Regions from separate parts of the Homo sapiens genome. Here region 2 is linked to region 1. Evidence: fine-mapped expression QTL. Tissue or cell type: whole blood. Region 1 holds a variant in brackets; the other region holds the start of a gene. All regions are shown on one strand. Distances are from middle to middle.

Region 1 (2,909 bases):
TGACCGGTGGCTGTTCTCCGTGTCCCAGCCCCAAGGACCCTTCCTCAGCACCAACTCCTGGAGTCTAACAATGAGCGTGTTATTTCAGGTACTTTTCTAGGAAGAAAGAGGGGATTTGTCCTGCCTGCTTTGGGGCTGTCATCACCAAGTCAGTGAGATGGAATTGAGGAAAACCCAAGGTGGCTCAGCTGCCACAGGGGCTCCTGCCATGATTGCGTGGATGCTGACGAGCGGGCTGGGGGCATGGGGGAGTGGGGCTCGCCCAGGTGACAGCTCATATTCTAATGGTGGCTTGGAAAATGTCCCCACCACCCCAGCGACAACGCAGCACACAGTCTGAACAAAGCCAGCCTCTTGCCAGATGGCATTTTTGCTATTTTAACCCCAGGGCCTTGCAGAGCCGGTACGCTGGGGCTTCAGTGAGGCGGCCAAGGCCTTCCAGGAGGCTCAGGTGTTGAGCCATAAAGCCCCAGATGTGCTTCATGCATGACGGCCTCGGTCGCACAGTGGCAGGCCTGCCACACTGCGGGGACTGGCCACAGGGTTGCTGCGTGAGACCAAAGCCTTTACTCTGATGCCGTCCCTGGTCAGGACTGTCTGAGATAAGAAGTTCAATCCATGTGTGAAGTGTTTTTTTACCTGTGTAGCTGAAGACTGGCTTGTCCTCTTCTGGGTGGGGGCTCTGAATGGACCCCAGGACCATGGACCCCAGGGACCCCCCTGCCACACTGGACAAGGTGTCAGTGACCACTCCAGGTTGGTGATTGGTGATTAAGGAACAGACAGCATTTTCCTCCCTCCCTCTACCATTTCTCTTTCTCGTTTTTGTTTTGTTTTGTTTTGTTGATTAAAGGTAGAACAGCAATGGTATCTCCACATAGGAAACACCAAGCCTTTGTGACCACATGAGCCGCAGCGTCTTCATCATGGATGAGGAGGGGAACCAGTTCTGGAATTCTGGCTCAGGGTAGATGCATCTTAACGGAAGAAGAATTAGTCAATTCTGTTTCCGTGGTTTACTCTTCCTGTCTCCTGCAGATGAATTCATTAGTTTAATTAATGAGAGCCCTTTGCCTTCCTCTGCAGTGTTGCCCATGGAAATAGTGGATGATCATGGCTCCCTATTATGAAATGTGGAGAGCATTATTTGATTAGGAGCAGAACCCTTTTCCCCCCCAGAAAATAGCCTCTAGGTAAGGGACTGGACGCTCACACACGATGAAGTGTCTGGTGTTCTTCTCTCTCATTAGGTAGCATGCCCTTCTCTTCCTGCCTTTGCAACAGCTCTAGGTAGGACCCACACTGTACAAGTGCCTCATTCGTGACTTCTGCTTCCCTTGCAGGAAGGCATAAATGTTGGCTGACTGTCAAATGCTTGTGGGAGGTCCCCACGGAGTGGAGAAGCGGGAGACTCAGCTTAATCACAGACAAAGTTGTGCATGAGAGGTGAGAGGGAGGAGCTGGAAGCC[G/A]GGGCTTGGAGGCAGTCCATGATCTTTCCGTCTGTGATCCTCAGTGTCAGAAAACTATGTAATCACTCAAGACAGGCAAATGGGATAACTGGATGGATGCTGAGGAAGTGTGAACTCAAGAAGGTAGAGGGAAAGCCACGACACGTCAGCGTAGCAGGGAGGTTAAGGGCATTGCCTTAGAGTCAGGCAGACCTGGGTTTGGAAGCCCCTCCGCCACTTACCATCTGTGTGACTTTGCCCACGTTGTTGTTTGGGGACCTGAGTTTCCTCATCGGTGACCAAGGTGTCGTAAGGGTTAAAGAAAATGGTGCATGAAGATGGCCTAACAGAGTGCCTGGGGTACGGTAAGTGTTTACTGTGTGGGAGCTGTTAGTGGTGCTGTTGGTAGGGATCAAGTGACCAGGTAGCCAGAGTTAGAAATCAGGGCCGCCACCTGCCAGGTGTCAGAAGAGACAGCTATTTGTTCATACTTTTTTTTTCTTTGTATGCTTCTCATTGAGTTCCAAGGTTGCCTACATGAGACCTCTCTTGGACTCCTTTCAGGAAAGCTTAGTTGCTCAGTGCCCGAGGGCCCTTGTTAAACCCTGATTGTCCCTGAGGTGGTCACCACAACATGGCCACATCAATAGCATCCCTCACAGGACTCCCAGGTCACACGCACCAGAAGGGTCTGCTTGGGAAGCCTGAGCAGAGTGATGTAGCAGGGGACAGGAGGTGAGGCTGGCGGAAGTGAGCAAGGGCCACACTGTCACTACGGATGCCACACTGCAGAGTGGGGCTTGATGGGTAAGACAGTGGAGGCAGGTACCAAGAGGGAGGGTGGGGTGAGCCCATCTGAGTTGGGAGACATGACTCTCATGGCAGGACTGGATGCTGAGGCCACAGGCAGAAAGATCATGGCTGCCGTCATCCAGGTGGGAGAACCTTTTTCAAAAATTAGTATATCTGTATTTTATTTTATTATTTATTTATGTTTCAATAGCTTTTGGGGTACAAGTGGCTTTTTATTATTTTTTGGAGACAGAGTTTTGCTCTTGTTGCCCAGGCTGGAGTGCAGTGGCACGATCTCAGCTCACTGTAACCTCTCCCTCCCGGGTTCAAGTGATTCTCCTGCCTCAGCCTCCCAAGTAGCTGGGATTACAGGCACCCACCACCACACACAGCTAATTTTTTCTATTTTTAGTAGAGATGGGGTTTCACCATGTTGGCGAAGCTGGTCTCGAACTCCTGACCTCAGGTGAGCCACCTGCCTCGGCCTCCCAAAGTGTTGGGATTACAGGTGTGAGCCACTGTGTCCGGCCTCACAAGTGACTTTTTGTTACATGGATAAAATATATAGTAGTTTATTCTGAGATGTTAGTGCTCCCATCACCTGAGTAGTGTACATTGTACCTAATGTGTAATTTTTCATTCCTACCCTCCTCCCACCCTCCCCCTTCT
Region 2 (2,909 bases), 34 kb before region 1:
ACTTTTTAACACACTACATCATTGACTTATTTATTTTAGTTTTTATTGGATCTGTCCTCCCACCAGAATGTCAGTTTCACAAGGTTAGGGATCTTTGCTTCGGTAGCTGATGTATCCTGAGTCCATAGAACAGCGCCTGCACACAGTAAGTGCCCAGCCCTGGTGATGATTTTAAAGACAAGAAAAGGCAATTATAAAAGTTAGTGACCGGCCCAAGGTTTAGATGAAGTAAATGGAACTTGTGTAAGGTAACTTGAAGAACTCTGCTTACTCATGTGAACACTACCCAAGGAAGGTTTAGTACCCCAGTACTGAGGAACTAAAGATGGTGGTGGTAAGGGAGTGGGGAGGGGCATCAGTGTTTGAGTTCAACCACCACACGTTTCTTCATTTTTAAGTTCTGTCTAGCCATTATACACACATTTGTCTGCACTATAACTGGACTTCTGCACTGTTGATAGTCCTAAGTTTCCTTCAAAGCTTGGCATCCGTGTGGCTTATTTGGTAGAGATTTGAACTTTCAAAGGGACGATACCCATCATTGGGGATTTCTCTCAAACCCTGGCGGTTTAAAAACCTACTTGGGCACTGCTGCTCAGCCAGCCCGAGGACCAGGGAGGCAAGCACAGAAATAGAAAGCATTTGTAAGTGTTAGTAGCTACTTTAAAGAGTAACTCTGTTCTGTTAGACCTACTAATAACAAATTAGGAGCTTGCATTTAGCACATCTTTTTTTAAAAAAAAAACACGTTCATTTTTCTCCTATGTTATAGTGTTTTACCTGAGAGGCTGAATATACTAAGACAATGGCCAAATCTAATATAAAAATAGACCTCCAATCCACAACCTGCAGCAACCTGCCCAGAAAACCAGTCAGTTACCTACAATAACCAACCCAGGGAGCCTGCCTGCTCTAAATCAGACTTGCACTCCTCTGCCTGCCTTTTTTCTTCTCATTCGGATGGTCTTCATCTATTCCCACATACCTGGGGTGGGGAGGAAATTAGCAAAAGCAAAACCCGGGTCCTGCACGCAGGCAGCTTAAGTACGGCCCTAGGGCTCGGGTCTTCCCTAGGCAAGAACCTCGAGGGCCGGACACGGGAGTGCAACCCAGGCACGCGCCTTCGGATGGCCAGAGTAAATGGTCGCGAGATTTTGCGGGGTAGCAAGGGGCCGGGTGCCCACGGCGGGAGAAACTACACTACTCTGGAGGCGAGCCTAGCCCTTCATCCCGTCGGGTTTCACAAACGAAGCCAGAGCTTCCTGGAGTGAGGGTGGAGCTTCCTGCCCGCGCCCTCTGCGCATGCGCCCGCCCGGCGCCCGCCCGGCGACCTGGAGTTGATGTCACGTCCGGCGGCGGCGGCAGCGGCAGCGGCAGCGGCGCTGAGTTTTGTCTCCCGGGCCGTCTGGGCGCGCGCGGGTGTCCCAGGTACCCCGCCGCCTCCCTCCTTCCCGCAGGACTCGTCCCTCCTGGCCCTGGGCCCCAACGGTGCCCGCCTGCCCGGCGGTCGGTCAGCGCACAGGGCACGGCTTCCTCTGCTTCTCCCGGACCACTTAGTCTCAACCCGGGTGTGTTTGCACTACTAGAGGTGAAGCATCCATCATAGAGAGAATGGGACCTGGGGTCTTGGACCAGGGTGTTTTTACTTTTCCCATCAGGTGGACGCGCATGGGCAGGAGATATTATTTGCAGCATTTCCTCCTAGAGGACGCCTTTGTCATTGTAGTGCAATCTAAGAATGGGTGTCCTTAGACAACAGGGACCGACCAAATCGTCATGCAGCTGTTTGGATGCTTTAAAAAAATAAATCCCCACACTCATTACGCGTTTTATGCTGCTGACTTTTTTATTTTTAAGACATCTGCTCCCGAAAGCTCAGAGCCCTTTAGCATTTCATTTTCTAAACGAATCCTAATCTTTCCTGTGACTGAATCGGTTCAGAGGATATCTTTTCAATAAGGAAGGAAGCCCTCCCCTGCTCACTGGGGACGTCGCAGGGTTTTTAAACCTAAAGATTTACTCTTTTGTGCACAGACGCTGGAAGCATTTGGGTGAGGCAGTGCAGTGCTTTTTGGGAAATGCATCAGATCTTTTCTGTTCTTGAAACGCCAAATCTAACTTGGTCTTTTTTTGGATGAATTACCGCCAGTATTATGAAGGTTACTGTGAAGGAACTTGAGACCACTGAACTTTTTGAGTTCTTGCGGTAGATTTTAAATCGTTTTTCCGTCTTCAACTCTGACTTTGGGATCACTGTCAATTGGCTACATTCTTTACCCTCTTCTAGTTATAATTTAATGCGATTTATTTGTTGTGGGTTTTGAATTTCGATAGCTACACTTAATAGAATTGTGTTTAAAAGAAAGATAAGTGAGGAACTCGTGGCTTTTTACTTTTATATAACTTAATTTTTCATTTTACAAAATGCCCATTTAAAAAAAAGTAGCTAAGCAAAAGAAAGGAAATTAAAATCATCTAGAATCCTACTATCTAAAGATAACCATTGCTAACATTTTGGAATAGAGTGTTAAGTTTTAAAATACATGAAATTTGTAAAAAACAAAAAATGAAATCATAGTGTATACTGTTTGAGTATAATTTGCTTGACGTATCTTGCCTGGCTTCCATTTCACTTATTTTTTTTCTTTGCGCATTTATAATAGCTACAGAATGTTCTATTGTGCTAGGCACTCATAGGTATAGTGGGAAACCTAGTGCATAAACCTTGTGCCATCTATTTTATCAGCTCAGAGAACTTTTAACTTATATCTTGGTTTTTAGCCAAGATGCATAGGTGAGATAGTTGCAGAACTGAGTTAAAGGAAAAATTTAATATTGGGTCCTATGCAAGGGTACATCATATTGAAAAGGTGGAGAACATCATTGAAAATTATTCTAATTCTTGACTC

The links. PIP is the estimated chance that this variant, and not a neighbour inherited with it, causes the effect.
Region 2: TBC1D7 starts here. The variant in region 1 is fine-mapped to the expression of TBC1D7 in whole blood (TOPMed, PIP above 0.99).

The regions. Positions count from the first base shown.
Region 1 is chr6:13,293,333-13,296,241 of GRCh38, reverse strand. The region is part of intron 8 of TBC1D7-LOC100130357 (TBC1D7-LOC100130357 readthrough); the gene reads left to right. LOC100130357 (a long non-coding RNA gene) reads left to right here and starts at 656. Exons shown (of 5, transcript NR_160971.1): 1 at 656-756; 2 at 854-967; 3 at 1,344-1,446. The variant G/A (reference allele first, on the strand shown) is at 1,470.
Region 2 is chr6:13,326,975-13,329,883 of GRCh38, reverse strand. TBC1D7 (TBC1 domain family member 7) reads left to right here and starts at 1,347. Exons shown (of 8, transcript NM_016495.6): 1 at 1,347-1,588. It overlaps TBC1D7-LOC100130357 (TBC1D7-LOC100130357 readthrough), which reads left to right and starts at 1,347. Exons shown (of 9, transcript NM_001318809.2): 1 at 1,347-1,428. It overlaps LOC124901261 (a long non-coding RNA gene), which reads right to left and starts at 1,269. Exons shown (of 2, transcript XR_007059457.1): 1 at 986-1,269; 2 at 27-159. RefSeq lists an enhancer at 1,002-1,508 and a silencer at 1,142-1,531.